3 separate regions of the Homo sapiens genome follow, and all the other regions are linked to region 3. The links come from fine-mapping of genetic effects on gene expression. A gene starts in region 3. Each other region holds a variant in brackets. All regions are shown on one strand. Distances are between the middles of the regions. Region 1 has its middle 11 kb from the start of PAGE1. Region 2 has its middle 24 kb from the start of TIMM17B. Region 3 holds the start of TIMM17B (translocase of inner mitochondrial membrane 17B).

Evidence for each region. PIP is the estimated chance that this variant, and not a neighbour inherited with it, causes the effect.
Region 1: its variant is fine-mapped to the expression of TIMM17B in lung (TOPMed, PIP 0.99).
Region 2: its variant is fine-mapped to the expression of TIMM17B in lung (TOPMed, PIP 0.98).

The regions. Positions count from the first base shown.
Region 1 is chrX:49,703,448-49,709,941 of GRCh38, reverse strand. No RefSeq gene overlaps it. Among named protein-coding and RNA genes, the nearest start is that of PAGE1, 11 kb to the right of the region's middle. The variant G/A (reference allele first, on the strand shown) is at 3,832.
Region 2 is chrX:48,870,212-48,876,705 of GRCh38, reverse strand. No RefSeq gene overlaps it. Among named protein-coding and RNA genes, the nearest start is that of TIMM17B, 24 kb to the left of the region's middle. The variant G/C (reference allele first, on the strand shown) is at 3,121.
Region 3 is chrX:48,893,809-48,900,113 of GRCh38, reverse strand. It overlaps TIMM17B (translocase of inner mitochondrial membrane 17B), which reads left to right and starts at 2,346. Exons shown (of 6, transcript NM_001395498.1): 1 at 2,346-2,390; 2 at 3,256-3,355; 3 at 5,013-5,076; 4 at 5,889-6,017; 5 at 6,104-6,214; 6 at 6,297-6,305. The coding sequence starts at 2,365. It overlaps PQBP1 (polyglutamine binding protein 1), which reads right to left and starts at 2,184. Exons shown (of 7, transcript NM_001032382.2): 1 at 2,032-2,184; 2 at 1,538-1,622. The coding sequence starts at 1,604. RefSeq lists enhancers at 1,521-1,740, 1,791-2,160, 2,451-2,650, 2,681-2,830.

The sequences.
Region 1 (6,494 bases), 810 kb before region 3:
CAGGGGTCCATCCCAATTGAGAATTATGAAGGTGAAGACTAAGCTCTGATTTTTTTTTTTTTTAATCTTGCCCAAATTCCTATCTAAGGGGCCTGGGGAATCATGCCCTACAAACCATAAATTCTCATCAGATGGGTTTTATTTAACCCTATATATCATGGCTTACTTTCCAACCTGACCCTGGCATAACGTTACGAGACAAGGAGGAAAATCAAAATATTTTACCCCAAAATATGTTTCTCTGCCATATCTTGAAATGGCCTTGCAAAGCCGTCCTTTGTAGGGGAAAATCTGTATCTGTAAAGAATCTCTATTAACATAGCTAGATCTTTTTCTTCCAGGCCTTCCCAATCCTAAAGAGATTAACTAAAGTCTACCACCTTTTAAAGATCTGAATAGGAATTATTTTTCATCTATTGTCTCTAAGGGCAGCCACTATAAAACTGTTTCCTTTCTATTGATCCCAGGTTCCCAGGTCTTTAGACAAACTCAACCAACTGTCAATCAGAAAATGTTTAAATTTATCTATAGCCTGGAATCCCCACCCACCCCCTTACCCCCTGTCCCCCTCCCCCTCCCCTCCCCCTCCCCCACCCCCATGCTTTGAGTTGTCCCGCCTTTCTGAATCAAACCAATGTATTTCTTAAATGTATTTGATTGATGTCTCATGTCTTCTTAAAATATATAAAACCAAACTGTACCACTATCACCTTGGGCACATGTTCTTGGACCTCCTGAGGGCTGTGTCACAGGTCACGGTCACTCATATTTGGCTCAGAATAAATCTCTTCAAATATTTTACACAGTTTGACTCTTTTTGTCAACAAAGGGTAGAGAGAAAATTAGTTTTCCTCCCCTACAAATCCAGTATTCTAGAGAACCTGCTTTGGGATTCAGATCACAGCAGGGCTTTTCGTCCCTTAAGCAAGCCTTGCAACAAACCCAATTTTGAGCATTCCCAACTCTGCTAAGCTCTTCCTACGAAAGGCAAGACTTCGTTTTGATGAGCTTACTCAAAAATCAGGAGCTTATCATAAGATCATCACTTATGTCTCTGGCCGTGTGGCCGAGGCTTGTTCCCCCCTGTTTATATGCCATGGGGCAGCAGCTAGATTGGTGGAAGCTCCAGCAGATATCTTCTTTGCCTCTCCCTCACCCTAGAGATTCCTGAGGAGTAGAAATCTTATTACTTCAGAATAACACTCAATGGTTGTCAGCCAGTCTCATTGCCTTCTATGAAGTTCTGTTATGTTCTGCTTCACCCAAAACTGTTAAATATTGTTCTAATCCAAGTGCTGATATCCTACTTCCTCTTTTGAATGACTGAATGTCATGAATGTCTAGCAGCTATTTAAACTCTCAGTATTCTTCAGCCTGACACTTGATGCTCTTCTACAGCAATGCCTCTCAAAGTATAGTCCCCAGACCAGCAGCCTCAGCATCATCTGGCACTTTTTCTGGGATCCGCATTGTTGGGCCCCACTCCAGATCTTCTGAATTCAAAACTCTGGAAGTGGAAACCAGCATTGTGTAGTTCAACAAGCCCTCCAGGTGATTCTGACGCATGCTAAAGGTTGAAAACCTTGAGAACCACTGGCTAGAAAACTCTGATATGATGTTTGTTGATGGCTCATATCTTGAGAATAAGCGAAGCATATTTTGTGCTGGCTATGCCATAAGTTCTGACTATTCTGCTATTATAGCTGTTCTTTATCAATAGCTCACTCCACTCAAATAGCTGAATGACAGTTACATCACCAGCATGTCACCTTGCTAAACACTTGAGTACACATCTATACAAATAGATGTATCTTTGGAGTTGCTCATGATTTTTTTAGTACATTATGAAAACAAAGAGGTTTTCTAATCTCACCAGGCACCCCAACTAAAATGGAAAAAAAAGTAATTTATAAGAGGCAATATAACATCCAAATGAAGTATAGATTAGAAATGGAGAAACTCATTCTAAAGGTAGTACTTTTAAAGCAAAAGGGAATTTCTGACTATTATGTAAAATAAGCAGTCCTTTCTGTTCTTGCTACAGTAGGTATTCTAAAGACACTTACTCAATCTGATTTAATGAATCCTGAATGACTTATTCAAATATGATAACCTGCCACTTCAGAAGAAAAGAAATAGTGGCCTTCTCCAAACTGTCACATGTGCAATAATGGGCTTTGGCATTGCCAGGATGAGTGCTTAATGTCACCAGAGGCCATCTCCAGACCTTTAGTGCTTTCTCTGTGAAATTATTCACAATGACAAATTGCTCAAATTTTTCAAAAATCTCGCTGAGAAAAATCTTCCTTGAGACAGGTGGCCAAATCTTGCCTTCTCTGTTGTTATCATGACCCAGGAAAAGCTGCAGAAAAAGGCAAAGTTCAGAACCTTTGCCTCAAAAACCATTTGAACATTTCCAAATGGATTTCATTCAGTTATAATGGTGCGTTAGGTTTATACTTGGATTAAAGTTTTCCCTTGCTAAAAGGTGAAAAGATAGATAGATAGATAGATAGATAGATAGATAGATAGATAGATAGATAGATAGAGATAGATAGATAGATAATAGATTGATAGATATTGTTTTTTCCCACCTGCATTACTCTCTAGTGATAGAGTACATATATTACTCTCTAGTGATAGAAAATTTCACTTTACAGGTGGAAATACTTAAGAAACTGTGTAAAGTACTCCCATTAAAACAAAAACTTCCTTGCTCACATTGATCCACTCACTAAGTTTTTGCAAAATAGAATGGGCCAATGATCTCTCATAATACTCAGAAGAGTTTAATCTCTCCTGACCTAAACTCTAACCATCAGCTGTAACGATAGGCAATAGTCATCTCATCTCAAAATCTTAACAGGCTCTCCCCTTGAAACAATTCCAGGAAGACCCATGAGACTGTGATGACTCCTCCTCTATCGGATTCCACCTTGTAAACACTTCAAGCTTGTCAAATATTGTCAAAAATGACATCATATGCCCAACAGGTGCAAGCTGCATTTTCAAAGAGAATATTACCAGCTATACCCTTACATGATTTGTAGTCAGGAGACTGGAGATGCTGGAAGAGAAACTGATGAAAGTTGGTTGTACTAGATGGGCAGGCCAAGGTGGGAGGATCACTTGAGGCTGAGAGTTCAAGATCAGCCTGGACAACATAGCAAAAAACTTTAAAAATTAGCTGGGCATGATGGTGTGTACTGTAGTCTCAGCTACTCAGGAGGCTGAGGCAGAGGATTGCTAGAGCCCAGGAGTTCAAGACTGCAGTGAGCTATGATCACACCACTGCACTCCACCCTGTGCAACAGAATGAAACCCTGTCTCTGAAAAAGAAGAAGAAGAAGAAGAAGAAGAAGAAGAAGAACAAGAAGAAGAAGAAGAAGAAGAAGAGGCACACTAGAAAAGACCATTTCAGGTCCTTTTAACTACAAGTACTACATTTTAACTCCAGACTGTGTAGCCATGGGTACATGCAAGCCAGTGTCAGTGTGTTAAGTATCCTACCACTGAGACATCTCTCCAGTCCCACTAGAGACTTAACTCTGAGAGTCATCAAAAAGGACTGCATAAGCAAAGACTTCCTGAAGTGGAGAGCCCTCTCCCAAGACCTTCTAGTTAAGATCCAGAATCAGGGCAACAGACCCTCATTTTATTATTTGACTCCTCTTTTTCCCTTTATTGTTTTTATTTTGTGGTATCTCAAGATACTAGATTGTTAAAATGGTCACCCTACTCTTTTTTTTCCATTTTTTTAACACTTTCATTTTCCAGAAACTCTGTGAATTTGCCTTTCTCAAACAACTGCAACAACAGCCAATCTTTTCA[G/A]CTGCTGGATTTCTCATCCAGCCCCAGATGTTCTAGTAAGACCCTTATACCCATGCCTATAGGACTAAATGGTATCAGATTTCACCCTAAGACTGACCATGTCATTCCCTTCTATCTTCAATACAGAAATATTAACCTTGAGACATCTATATGCCTTAACTTGACACTAGGTCATTAACAATTAACTGTTGTTTCTGATATTTCCAAGAACTTTCAAAGAAACTGGGGAAATATCAAGAATAGGATAGGCATGAGACTAATGATGCAAACTATAGTCCAATTATTTTACCACAAATCTAAACAAAAACTATATAAATGATTTATTTAACTCTAGAGTGTTTTCGTCAACAATCAGATCTATTAAATTCAGACAATAAGTGGTACCTACCATAAACAACACATATATGCCTTCTCAATGTGCACTTCTGGGACTTTCTTTGGGTGTAATAAAATGGATTTTCTATGCTTGCTGCATTAAAATATGCTGTACACTTTCAGTATATTCATTCAGCCTTTCCAAACATTCAAAACAGAACCTCCCAGTGATCTTATTTTATTAATATTTTGACATGTTACCTTACCAGGAGGTATCCATGATACTGTATTTTACTGATTTGTGCAAGGATTTATACTCTGAGCAGGAGTTCCTGAAATAGATCATGTTATCCACAATTTATATCAGACTTTGGCTCAAATAGCAAATGAAATAGCTCAAGCATTAGAAGCAGAACATTTAAGCGTAAATCTATCAGATAGAATTTTTATTTGCTCACCAGCCAAGCTGGAGTCTTAGAATTTTTATTTGCTCACAAGCCAAGGTGAAGTCGGGGCAATGGGTGACACATTTTATTATGTCTGGATAAATACTTCAGGAGAAATGGGGCAATAAATCAATGAATGAATGAAAAAGCCACTTGCTTATCTAATATTGGCCAAACTAATCCTTTGGCAAGTTTGACGAAGCCCAAATTGCTCTCCTGGTTGGGCTTTGGGAAACTAAAACATTGGACATGAAGTGAGTTTCGATATTTATTATTATGATTGAACTTAGGCTTTTTGCCCTCCTCCACCGTCTAACTCCAACTGCCTAAATGTGCCTGCACAGCCAGGATCTCAAAACAACAGTTAACCCATGATCAGAGTCAAAAGGAACCTGAAACCTTCATAGTCAGCCCGGCTTGGTTGCTGAGTGACTGAGGCAGTAGTTGAGAAATTCTGGAAGGGAGCTGGTGCCCAAATGACATAGCTGAGATGAAGGTGTTAACTAAAGACAGTGACAGCCAAAACACAGAGACAGCCTGTCACACATTGCTCATAGCTAAACTTCCGAGGCCTTATGGGGAACCCATAAACAACCGAATTTGTTTTCTTTGAGGACCTAGTCTGCTGTCCAAGGGCAGAACAGCCCACTTGGCCCCTTGCTGGTCACCAGTTCGCCCAGCAAGAGGAAAGCAGGGTTCACCATTTTCAAATATGCCTGTGGTTTTCCTTCTTACCTCTCTCTTCTTCTTCCTTGTAGATAAATCCTTTGTTAGATGAAATCAATCTGTTATTAGTATTTTGTATTCAAGTAAGTTAGCTTGATAATAACTAACAATATGCCTTTGAGTTATTCTTTGAAACATGCCACCTAACCTCAATGAACCTCAGTTTACTCATCTTGTGAAATGGGAATGCACAGTACACATCTAGAGAGAATTAAGTGAAATCATGAAAGTGACAGTGCCTAGCACTGGATCTGGCACATATGCAGAAAAGTTGCCTGTCCAGATGGAGTTAATGAGGAAGGTGTTCAATCAAGCAGTCAACAAGCATTACAGGTAGGTAAGTGCCTAAGTGGAATGCTTAGTGAAATCCTAATCAATCAATTAACCATCATATGTGTTTTCAGTTCCTCGCCCTGGGGAAGATATGAAAGGACAGACAAGATCCCTTCCTTTAAGGAAACAGAAGATGAGTCAGAGAGATAAAATACACGCATGGCACAATACGTCAAGAACATGGCTATGGTGGGACTTCACAATTTGAATAAACTGCAGAAGGACAAAGGAGGGCGAGGACAGTTAATGTAAGAGTGCATGAAGGTAAGGAGGAGCAGAGTCAGGCCCACCAGGTAATCAGAACCCTCCATCTCAGCTCCCTTCTGATGCCCCAACAGAGTTCTTCAGCACATGTTATAGGCAATACCGTACAGCAAGCTTGTTCAACCTATGGCCCTCATGCCACATGCGGCCCAGGATGGCTTTGAATTTGGCCCAACACAAATTTGTAAACTTTCTTAAAACATTATGAGTTTTTTTTCAATTTTTTTCTAGCTCATCAGCTATCGTTAGTGTTAGTGTATTTTAGGTGTGGCCCAAGACAATTCTTCTTCTTCCAATGTGGCAAAAGATTGGACACCCTCACCCCTGCCCCAGATTGAAATCTTGAGTTATATAAATTATCTGTTCCTCAGTTTCCTCATCTATAAAATAGAAATAACAATACCTACTTGCAAGAGTTGTGTGCTTTAAATGAGATAATGGGTGAAAAGCACTTAGCACAGTGCCAATACAAAGCAGGCAAAATATAATAGTTATTATTATTTCAGTTATTTGTTATTGGCATTGTCTTTCTAGTCTCTGTTCTCTCACATCCTCTCTTCCAACCATGTTAGAAAATAC
Region 2 (6,494 bases), 24 kb after region 3:
CCAGGCTGGAGTGAAGTGCAGTGGCTCACTGCAGCCTCCGCCTCCTTGGTTCAAGCCATTCTCCTGCCTCAGCCTCCCCAGTAGATGGGATTACAGGTGCCCGCCACCACGCCCGGCTAATTTTTGTATATTTAGTAGAGACAGGGTTTCACCATGTTGGCCAGGCTGGTCTCAAACCCCTGACCTCAGGTGATCCACCCACCTTGGCCTCCCAAAGTGCTGGGATTACAGGCATGAGCCACCGCGCCAGGCCAGTTTTAATTTTCATTTATAATTTTTAGTTCTATCATTTCTATTTGGTTCTTTTTCTATATCATCTATATGTTGATAATTTTTTTTTGAGATGGGGTCTCACTCTGTTGCCCAGGCTGGAGTGCAGTGGTGCAATCACAGCTCACTGCAGCCTCAACCTCCTAGGCTGAATCGATCCTCCTAAGCTCAGCCTCCCAAGTAGCTGGAACCACAAGTGCACACCACCATAACTGGCTACTTTTTGTATTTTCTGTAGAGGTGGGGCTTCACCATATTGCCCAGGCTGGTCTTGAGCTCCTGGACTCAAACGTCCTAACCGCCTTGGCCTCCCAAAGTACTGGGATTACAGTTGTGAGCCATCGCACCTGGCCAAAGAATTTCTATTTCTTCTTTTGTTTCCAGTTTATTTGTAATTCCTTATTGACTCATTTTTATGGTGACTACTCTAAAATCCTTGTCAGATAATTCCAGCATGTGATTCATCTTGCTATTGGCTTCTGTTTTTTGTTTTGTTTTGTTTTGTTTTGAGACAGACTCTTACTCTGTCACCCAGGCTGGAGTACAGTGGCATGATCATGGCTCACTGCAGCCTCAACTTACCCTGGCTCAGGTGATTCTCCCAGCTCAGCCTCCCGAGTAGTAGCTGGGACTACAGGCACGTGCCACCACGCCTGGCTAATTTTTCCATTTTTTTGTAGAGATGAGGTTTCGCCATGTTGCTCAGGCTGGTCTTAAACTCCTGGACTCAAGCGGTTGGCCTGCCTTGGCCTCCCAAAGTTCTGGGATTACAGGCATGAGCCGCCACACCTGGCCCATTCTTAAGCTGAGTTATCTATTTGTAAACTGCTGATTTATTTGGGGGCATTGTCCCCATAAACTTTTCAGAAAGCATCAATGATTTTTCACCATTCTTCCACCCAACCATCACCATAAATTTGATTTTGTTCTTGCTTCAGTATTAGCAGAATTCATGTGGCTCTGGTAGAGGCTCTTTTCAAATTGATGTCTTATCCTTCTTAACCCCTCAAACCAGATCCTGTTCAGACATGTTATAACAAGTTAGTACAGATTTATTTTGGTGTAAAAAAAAATTGAAATTCAAAAAAGAAAAAACAAAAATAAATAAATAAAAGCAAAACAAAAATAGGAAGGAAAAAAGCAAAACAGAAAAACAACAAAAAACTATAAAACATTTGAAATCCATGCATATAGTTTTTTTCACCAAATGCATTTTCCGTGTACTTTTAGATGACCCCTCATATAAAAAGAACTCCTAAAAAATTTTAAGGGAAAGACAAGACGCCCAATCAAAAAGTATGCAAAGGTTATGAACAAACATTTTGCATAAGAGGAAACCCAAATGGCCAATAAATATATAGAAATATGCTCACACTAAATCAGAGAGCTGTATATTAAAGGAACAAAATGTTATTTCCTGTCTATCAGATAGGCAAAAAGATTTTTTTTTTTGAGATGGAGTCTTGCTCTGTTGCCCAGGCTGGAGTGCAGTGGCACTATCTCGGCTCACTGCAATCTCTGCCTCCGGGGTTCAAGCAATTCTCCTGCCTCAGCCTCCTGAGTACCTGGGACTACAGGCATGTGCCACCATGTCCGGCTAATTTTTGTACTTTTTAAGTAGAGACGAGGTTTCACTATGTTGGCCAGGCTGGTCTCGAACTCCTGACCTCAGGTGATCTGCCTGCCTTCGCCTCCCTAAGTGCTGGGATTATAGGTGTGAGCCACCGCTACCCAGCCCCAGATAGAGAAAAAATTTAAAATCTGATAATACCAACTGTTGGTAAGCATTTCCAGAGACAGAATGTCTCATTCACAGCTGATGGGAGCATAATGGATACAACAATTATTTTGGAAAACCGTTTTATAGTTCCTTTTTTCTTTCTTTCTTTTTTTTTTTTTTGAGACAGAGTTTCACTCTTGTCACCCAGGCTGGAGTGCAGTGGCAAGATCTTGGCTCACTGAAACCTCTGTCTCCTGGGTTCAAGTGATTCTCCTGCCTCAGGCTCCCAAGTAGCTGGAATTACAGGCGCTCGCCACAACGCCCAGCTAATGTTTGTATTTTTAGTACAGATGGGATTTTACCATGTTGGCCAGGCTGGTCTCGAACTCCTGACCTCAGGTGATCCACCCGCCTTCGCCTCCCAAAGTGCTGGGATTACAGGCATAAGTCTCCATGCCCAGCCGGCAGTTTCTACTAGAGCTGTATATGTGCACACCCATCACTCAGTGATGCCACTTCTGGGTATATACTAAACAGAATGTGTATAAATGTTTTTTTGTTTTGTTTTGTTTTATCCTTTTTTTTATTATTATACTTTAAGTTTTAGGGTACATGTGCACAACGTGCAGGTTAGTTACATATGTATACATGTGCCATGTTGGTGTGCTGCACCCAGTAACTCGTCATTTAACATTAGGTATATCTCCAAAGGCTATTCCTCCCCCGCCCCCCATCCCACAACAGTCCCTGGTGTGTGATGTTCCCCTTCCTGTGTCCATGTGTTCTCACTGTTCAATTCCCACCTATGAGTGAGAACATGTGGTGTTTGGTTTTTTGTCCTTGCAATAGTTTGCTGAGAATGATGGTTTCCAGCTTCATCCATGTCCCTACAAAGGACATGAACTCATCATTTTTTATGGCTGCATAGTATTCTATGGTGTATATGTGCCACATTTTCTTAATCCAGTCTATCATTTTTGGACATTTGGGTTGGTTCCAATTCTTTGCTATTGTGAATAGTGTCACAATAAACATACATGTGCATGTGTCTTTATAGCAACATGATTTATAATCCTTTGGGTATATACCCAGTAATGGGATGGCTGGGTCAAATGGTATTTCTAGTTCTA[G/C]ATCCCTGAGGAAGCGCCACACTGACTTCCACAAGGGTTGAACTAGTTTACAGTCCCACCAACAGTGTAAAAGTGTTCCTATTTCTCCACATCCTCTCCAGCACCTGTTGTTTCCTGACTTTTTAATGATCACCATTCTGACTGGTGTGAGATGGTATTTCATTGTGGTTTTGATTTGCATTTCTCTGATGGCCAGTGATGATGAGCATTTTTTCATGTGTCTTTTGGCTACATAAATGTCTTCTTTTGAGAAGTGTCTGTTCATATCCTTTGCCCACTTTTTGTGATGGGGTTTTTTGTTTTTTTCTTGTAAATTTGTTAGAGTTCATTGTAGATTCTGGGTATTAGCCCTTTGTCAGATGAGTAGATTGCAAAAATTTTCTCCCATTCTGTAGGTTGCCTGTTCACTCTGATGGTAGTTTCTTTTGCTGTGCAGAAGCTCTTTAGTTTAATTAGATCCCATTTGTCAATTTTGGCTTTTGTTGCCATTACTTTTGGTGTTTTAGACATGAAGTCCTTGCCCATGCCTATGTCCTGAATGGTATTGCCTAGGTTTTCTTCTAGGGTTTTTATGGTTTTAGGTCTAACATTTAAGTCTTTAATCCATCTTGAATTAATTTTTGTATAAGGTATAAGGAAGGGATCCAGTTTCAGCTTTCTACATATGGCTAGTCAGTTTTCCCAGCACCATTTATTAAATAGGGAATCATTTCCCCATTGCTTGTTTTTCTCAGGTTTGTGAAAGATCAGATGGTTGTAGATATGCGGCATTATTTCTGAGGGCTCTGTTCTGTTCCATTGGTCTGTATCTCTGTTTTGGTACCAGTACCATGCTGTTTTGGTTACTGTAGCCTTATGGTATAGTTTGAAGTCAGGTAGCGTGATGCCTCCAGCTTTGTTCTTTTGTCTTAGGATTGACTTGGCCATGCGGGCTCTTTTTTGGTTCCATATGAACTTTAAAGAAGTTTTTTCCAATTCTGTGAAGAAAGTCATTGGTAGCTTGATGGGGATGGCATTGAATCTATAAATTACCTTGAGCAGTATGGCCATTTTCATGATATTGATTCTTCCTACCCATGAGCATGGAATGTTCTTCCATTTGTTTGTATCCTCTTTTGTTTCATTGAGCAGTGGTTTGTAGTTCTCCTTGAAGAGGTCCTTCACGTCCCTTGTAAATTGGATTCCTAGGTATTTTATTCTCTTTGAAGCAATTGTGAATGGGAGTTCACTCATGATTTGGCTGTTTGTCTGTTATTGGTGTTTAAGAATGCTTGGATTTTTGCACATTGATTTTGTATCCTGAGACTTTGCTGAAGTTGCCTATCAGCTTAAGGAGATTTTGGGCTGAGATGATGGGGTTTTCTAGATATATAAATCATGTCATCTGCAAACAGGGACAATTCGACTTCCTCTTTTCTTAATTGAATACCCTTTATTTCCTTCTCCTGCCTGATTGCCCTGGCCAGAACTTCCAACACTATGTTGAATAGGAGTGGTGAGAGAGGGCATCCCTGTCTTGTGCCGGTTTTCAAAGGGAATGCTTCCAGTTTTTGTCCATTCAGTATGATATTGGCTGTGGGTTTGTCATAGATAGCTCTTATTATTTTGAGATACGTCCCATCAATACCTAATTTATTGAGAGTTTTAGTTGTTGAATTTTGTCAAAGGCCTTTTCTGCGTCTATTGAGATAATCATATGGTTTTTGTCGTTGGTTCTGTTTATGTGCTGGATTATGTTTATTGATTTGTGTATGTTGAACCAGCCTTGCATCCCAGGGATGAAGCCCTCTTGATCATGGTGGATAAGCTTTTTGATGTGCTACTGGATTCGGTTTGCCAGTATTTTATTGAGGATTTTTGCATCGATGTTCATCAGGGATATTGGTCTAAAATTCTCTTTTTTTGTTGTGTCTCTGCCAGGCTTTGGTATCAGGATGATGCTGGCCTGATAAAATGAGTTAGGGAGGATTCCCTCTTTTTCTATTGATTGGAATAGTTTCAGAAGGAATGGTACCAGCTCTTCCTTGTACCTCTGGTAGAATTTGGCTGTGAATCCATCTGGTCCTGGACTTTTTTTGGTTGGTAAGCTATTAATTATTGCCTCAATTTCAGAGCCTATTATTGGTCTATTCAGAGATTCAACTTCTTCCTGGTTTAGTCTTGGGAGGGTATATGTGTCGAGGAATTTATCCATTTCCTCTAGATTTTCTAGTTTATTTGCGTAGAGGTGTTTATAGTATTCTCTGATGGTAGTTTGTATTTCTGTGGGATCGGTGGTGATATCCCCTTTATCATTTTTTATTGCTTCTATTTGATCCTTCTCTCTTTTCTTCTTTATTAGTCTTGCTAGCGGTCTATCAATTTTGTTGATCTTTTCAAAAAACAAGCTCCTGGATTCATTGATGTTTTGAAGGGTTTTTTGTGTCTCTATCTCCTTCAGTTCTGCTCTGATCTTAGTTATTTCTTGCCTTCTGCTAGCTTTTGAATGTGTTTGCTCTTGCTTCTCTAGTTCTTTTAATTGTGATGTTAGGGTGTCAATTTTAGATCTTTCCTGCTTTCTCTTGTGGGCATTTAGTGCTGTAAATTTCCCTCTACACACTGCTTTGAATGTGTCCCAGAGATTCTGGTATGTTGTGTCTTTGTTCTCGTTGGTTTCAAAGAATATCTTTATTTCTGCCTTCATTTCGTTATGTACCCAGTAGTCATTCAGGAGCAGGTTGTTCAGTTTCCATGTAGTTGAGCAGTTTTGAGTGAGTTTCTTAATCCTGAGTTCTAGTTTGATTGCACTGTGGTCTGAGAGACAGTTTGTCATAATTTCCATTCTTTTACATTTGCTGAGAAGTGCTTTACTTCCAACTATGTGGTCAGTTTCGGAATAAGTGCGGTGTGGTGCTGAGAAGAACATATATTCTGTTGATTTGGGGTGGAGAGTTCTGTAAATGTCTATTAGATCCACTTAGTGCAGAGCTGAGTTCAGTTCCTGGATATCCTTGTTAACTTTCTGTCTCGTTGATCTATCTAATGTTGACGGTGGGGTGTTAAAGTCTCCCATTATTATTGTGTGGGAGTCTAAGTCTCTTTGTAGGTCACTAAGGACTTGCTTTATGAATCTGGGTGCTCCTGTATTGGGTGCATATATGTTTAGGATAGTTAGCTCTTCTTGTTGAATTGATCCCTTTACCATTATGTAATGGCCTTCTTTGTCTCTTTTGATCTTTGTTGGTTTAAAGTCTGTTTTATGAGAGACTAGGATTGCAACCCCTGCCTTTTTTTGTTTTCCATTTGCTTGGTAGATCTTCCTCCATCCCTTTATTTTGAGCCTATGTGTGTCTCTGCACGTGAGATGGGTCTCCTGAATATAGCACACTGATGGG
Region 3 (6,305 bases):
ACGCCCGGCTAAGTTTTTTGTATTTTTATTAGAGATGGGGTTTCACCCTGTTAGCCAGAATGGTCTCGATCTCCTGACCTCGTGATCCGTCCACCTCCGCCTCCCAAAGCGCTGAGATTACAGGCATGAGGCACCCTGCCCGGCCTGGGATCATTGACAATTTTATTAACCACAAGGTCTATACCTTGCACACAGTAGGCTTGTAATAGATGTCAGTTATCAATAAGGAGAAGATATATTTTCCAGTGCCTGGCACACTATAGCCCCAAATAGATGCCAGTTTTTAGTATTACTGATAATAAGGTGTGATTTGCAGCCAGAGCACAGTAGGCCTAAATGATAGATCCTCACTGCAACTACGCTTGGCACACAGGAGACAGCAGTAGAGGTTAGCAGTACTTCCTATTAGATACTATGTCATCACCCCCATAGAGTAATCCATGGGATTTAACTTGGCATACAGTAGGCCCCAAATAGGCATTAGGTGGTCAGTATTATTTTGTTGTTTTTTTTGGATTTTTTTCAGACAGGGTCTCCATGTGTCGGCCAGGCTGGAGTGCAGTGGCACAATCTCGGCTCACTGCACCCTTGACATCCTAGGCTCAAGAGATCCTCTCACCTCAGCCTCCCAAGTAGCTGGGACTACAGGCATGCACCACAACACACGATTAATTTTTGTATTTTTTGTAAAGACGGGGTTTTGCCATGTTGCTCAGGCTAATCTCTTAATCCCTAAACTCAAGCAATCTACCCGCCTCAGCCTCCTAAAGTGCTGGGAATGCCAGCTTGAGCCGCCACGCCCAGCCAGTCAGTATTGTTAAGAATGAAATATCTGCCGGGCACAGTGGCTTATGCCTGTAATCCCAACCCTTTGGAAAGCCAAGGGTGGGGGGTGGATCACCTGAGGTCAGGAGTTAGAGGCCAGCCTAGCCAACATGGTGAAACCCGTCTCTACTAAAAATGCAAAAATCAGCCGGGTGTGGTATCACGTGCCTGTAATCCCAGCTACTTGGGAGGCTGAGACAGGAAAATCGCTTGAGCCCGGGAGGCGGAGGTTGCAGTGAGACGAGATCACGCCACAGCACTCCAGCCTGGGCGACAGACCGAGACTCTGTCTCAAAAAAAAAAAAAAAAAAATTGCCAGGTGTGGTGGGGCGGGGCGTGCCTGTAGTCCCAACTACTCGGGAAGTTAAGGCAGGAGAATCGCTTGAACCTGGAAGGCGGAGGTTTTAGTGAGCCGAGATCGCGCCACTGCACTCCAGCCTGGGTGCACAATAAGACTCTGCCTCAAAAAAAAAAAAAAAAAAAAAAAAAAAAAAAAAAAAAAAGAATGAAATATCTATTCCCCCAACCCCCTCCACTTGACACGCGGTAGGGATGGATGTCAGGAATCCACATTGTTAACAACGAAAAATGCCTGCCACCCCATTGCTTGGTGCACAGTTGGCCCATGCTAGGTATCAAGCGTCAGTATCAACAACAAAAGTGCCTGTCGAGGCTGGCACGTGTTAGGACCATCTGCTTTTAGCTGTCTCACCAGGCTCCAGATGTTTGAGGATGCCTCTCTTGGCCAAGCGGGTCTGCAGCGCAACGGGCAGCGGCATAGCTGATAGCAGACAGACCTAGGGACAGACGAACAAACTGACAAGCAGCTCAGATAAAGATTCCTATCTGGATCCCGTAACCAAGCGCCTCCCGTAAACATGTACTCATCTGACTCCGATCTACTCAAATGAACCAGTAGCTGGGTGGACAGAACATACGCACTAAAAGATGTAAGAGGTAGGTGGCAATATCATCGCAACTCCCACCAACCCTACTGTCCCCGAAACCAGGTGCTCCAGGGCCCTGTTCCTCTCCCAGGCCCAGGCTCCGCCCACAGCCTAAGAAGCCCGGCCCCTCCGCACTTCAGAAATGGGCTCATCCAGCGTCCCCATGACTGCCGGGTGGGAGAAACCAAAGCGCTGGGATGGGGGAGCAGAGGGCAGCACTTCCTCCAGCTCCAAAAGAGTGCACCCACCCCAACGTTACCAATACACTCGTGCAGGTAGTGGAAGGCTGTCACACCGCCCGTCTCTCTCGTGTCGCCGCTACGATACCTGGGCCCACACGACTCTCTTCCCAAAACACCGAATGAGACCTTCTCTCAACGAGGCCTTCACTCCCCGAGCCTGAAAGTAACTGGACTACGCTCAGGAGGCAATGAACAAATGGCAGAAACTCGATTGGCCAATGAGAGTGCGTCCTTGGCGTGACATGCGGTATAGCGACCCAATCGCTGCCCGGTAATAGGCGGAAAGCTCCGACGCCGGTGTGCGTCTACGCTGGGGGCGTGGCCTGACTGCGCGGCCAGACGCCAGCGCCATGGAGGAGTACGCTCGGGAGCCCTGGTACGGCAATGGGCACAGGCATCCGGAATATTGCTGCGACGCCAAGGCCAGCCGTGGGGGTCGGGCGGGGGAGGCATCGGCCGCACAGAGCCATGTACCAGACTCGGGGGACTCTTAACGTATCTCCCGCTACCCCCACTCGGTTCCTGTCATTCGGGCTCCGTTATGAGGGGCCACAACCAGAGAAGGTGCGGCGAAGGCCGAACCACGCCATGTTTCTCCTGACTTCGTAATCTCCTAGCCCTGTTAACGAAAAAAGACACGCTGGACGATCCATCCCGGCTAGGGGTGGTACGGTGTTGACCGGAAATCCCCAGAGTTGCCGCCAGTGGTTTTTCCCAGGTCGCCTTTGTCAGTGGGGGGCGGGGCACGGATGAACCTGTTGAGGGCCGGCGGGGACGGTGGATGCTTCCCGCGGTCGCTCTTGGTTTTTCCCAGTTGTGCCGGATTGAAAAGGGGCGGGGCATGGTTGGACGGGCTCACCGTCGGAGAAGGGGTGCGACGCGGTCCTGCTTTGCTGACAGTCTGTCTTGGCTAGTTAACACGCCTATGTCGCTTATTGAAACGTCAACTCTGCGTGTGCCAATTCATTTAATCTTTGATCACAGTAAAACCGTTGGCTGATTCCTTGGTTGGTAGACAGGGCGAAGACTAATATTTCTCCCCCTTTGCCCCATTTCTCGCTTTAATGGGGGGGTGTGTGGAAAAAGCGTGACAGAACTAGCTCATTATTATCTGAAGTGTTTGTTCCTACTTAGGAACTTCCCATTCTGGTGACTTGGTTTCTCCCAGTTAGAAAAGAGTTCGTGTGACAGGACCTGGGGGAGGGCTCACATTAACCCCGTCCTTCCCTTCCTGCTTGCAGCCCATGGCGAATTGTGGATGATTGCGGTGGAGCCTTCACTATGGGTGTCATCGGTGGCGGAGTCTTCCAGGCCATCAAGGGTTTCCGCAATGCCCCTGTTGTGAGTCCAGGCCTTCCCTGGGTTGGTGTGGGGTTAGCTATCTTGCCCACAAGGGAGGCTGCTCTGAAAACTGCTTGGAGCTGCCAGTCACGTGCACTTATTCATTCTGGTGCCCACTCACCTACTATGTGCCGAGCCTGGCTCCTGTATCTGGGATTTTGTAGGGATTGCAAACATGGCCTCTGTCTTCCACCCTCCACCCCACCCAACTGGAGCTCCTCTGTGGAAATGCTGTGTCGTTCAAAGAGTCATCACCAAATTTTAAATGTATGTGCAAAGCCAGACAGTTTTTTTTTTTTTTGAGACAGTCTTGCTCTGTTGCCCAGGCTAGAGTGCAGTGGCACGCTCTTGGCTCACTGCAACCTCTGCCTCCTGGGTTCAGGCAATTCTCCTGTCTCAGCCTCCCAAGTAGCTGGGACTACAGGCATGTGCCACCAGACCTGACGAATTTTTGTAATTTTAGTAGAAATGGGGTTTCACTATGTTGGCCAGGCTGGCCTTGAACTCTGGACCTCAGGTGATCCACCTACCTCGGCCTCCCAAAGTGCTGGGATTACAGGCGTGTGCCACTGTGCCTGGCCATGTTTTTTTTTTTTTTTTTTTTTTTGAGACAGCATCTTGCCCTGTTGCCCAGGCTGGCGTGCAGTGGCCTGATCATGGGTCACTACAGCCTCCGCCTCCCAGGCTCAAGTGATCCTCCCACCTCAGCCTCCCAAGTAGCTGGGACCACAGGACTGCGCCACCATGCCCGGCTAATTATTTATGTATGTATTTATTTATTTGTAGAGACGGGGTTTCAACGTGTTGCTTAGGCTGGTCTCTAATTCCTGAACTCAAGTGATCCACCCACCTCAGCCTCCCAAAGTGCTGGGATTACAGGTGTTAGCCACTGCGCATTTTACCTAGAGGCAGATTCTGGCTCAGAAACCCGGATAGAGGAAAATGACAGGAATTTAATTGGCAGACGGAAGACAGCCTTGAAGTTGAGAGAATTCTTTTAACATAATTCTTTTTCTCTGACCACCTCCCCTCCCAGAAGATCGCAAATGCCATGACTTTAAATGCCATCTATTAGCCAAGGTCTCTGCAATTTATATATGTAGCCCCGTCCCTCCCCTAGACTCCTGGAACTCTCCTCCCTGGATCTTTGCCCAAGTTTGTCATCCTCAAGGTCTCAGCACAGATTCCCCCTCCTTCAAGAGGCCTTTCCTGACCCCTCAGCCCCAGTCATATTTCTTCATGGCATTTCCTCTACAGTGCAGATTGCTGTCTGAAGCTCCCTTGTTTATCTACTCTTGCTCAAGATCTGTGTCTCCCACCGTTAATGTGAGCTCTGAGAGGGCAGAGAGCAGACCTACCTTGTTCATGGCTGTATCCCTGCATATGGCATGGTGCTTGGCACATATAGTAGGTACTTGTTAATCATTCACTGAATGAATGAATGAACAAATGTATGAATGAATTAGCACTTCTCAACCTAGCTCTGAGAACACCCATGTTGGGGCGCTCTCCAGGCCACTAGTTCTTGGCCACTTCTCCACATCTCTACAGCTCATACCTCTAACAGGTCTCCCATCTTCTTCCCTCTCTTAAAAGTTGGAAACGTGTCTGCCAGTGGCTTCAGCCCTGCCCTAACGCCCTTCCTTCCTTTCCCCAGGGAATTCGGCACCGGTTGAGAGGTAGTGCCAATGCTGTGAGGATCCGAGCCCCCCAGATTGGAGGTGAGGGACTTGGGGAGATAGATATAGGAGATGTCTTGGCAAAGGTGGGAGTGGTTGATCCTTTGGGTCTAGGCTGCAAGTTAGGGGTTCAGATTCTAGCCCCTGCCAGAGACTTTCTAGGGGGGTGATGTTTCCCAACAATTGAATATGGAGGGGAAGAAAGTGGGTTCTGGAGTTTAAATCTAGGTCCTGACTGTTCCCTGCCATGTGACCTTGGGCTAGTGGCTTAACCTCTCTGAACCTCACTTGTACCGTGGGGGTGGTGATAACAGTAACCACTTCATCGGTAGTTTTATAGTTTATGTAATTTACATACTACTAAGTGCTGGTTGCTATGCTAAACACTTTAATAACATTAACTAATTTAAAATTGCAGAAGTTAAATAACAGAGCACCTCGAACAGGTCCTGGCACACAGTAAGCCCTCAGTAAACATTTTAACTATCATATTAACTGGGTTTCCTAACCTATTTCCTTCTCACTGAAACCCAAATCAGAATTCCAACTCTGTGTGGTGATTATGAAGCTCAAAGTTGCTCTGTTAAAAGCCATATGAAGATAAATCTGCTTGTAAACATTTGTCAACTCCCCATAAAGATGAAGGGAATGTTGATGGTGATTATAGACGGCTTGAAGTGGGAGCTACCACAGGATGGGGACAGATAGGAAATACTCTGTGTGGGTTTGCTATCTGCCTTTGTGTCTGGGTTTTTCTCCCTGTTCTTGGCCAAAGCATTCAGGCCTTGGAAGTCCCCTGAGATGTGAATTCTCAGGATTTCCCAGGAACTAATTAGGCCTCGGTTCCACTACAGGTAGCTTCGCAGTGTGGGGGGGCCTGTTCTCCACCATCGACTGTGGCCTGGTGCGGCTTCGGGGCAAGGAGGATCCCTGGAACTCTATCACCAGTGGAGCATTGACCGGGGCTGTGCTGGCTGCCCGCAGTGAGTGACCCCTGGCCCTGGCCCCAGCCCCTTCCACCCTGTTCTGCCTGCTCTCACCTCTGTTTCTCTGCCTCCAACTCCCCCAGGTGGCCCACTGGCCATGGTGGGCTCAGCAATGATGGGGGGCATCCTGTTGGCCCTCATTGAGGGCGTTGGCATCCTCCTCACTCGCTACACAGCCCAGCAGTTCCGAAATGGTGAGTAACTGGTGGTCGGGGGAGTGGGAAATACTCCACCTGGCCTCTTCCACTCATCCTTACCCAAGTCTCCCTTCTCCAGCGCCCCCAT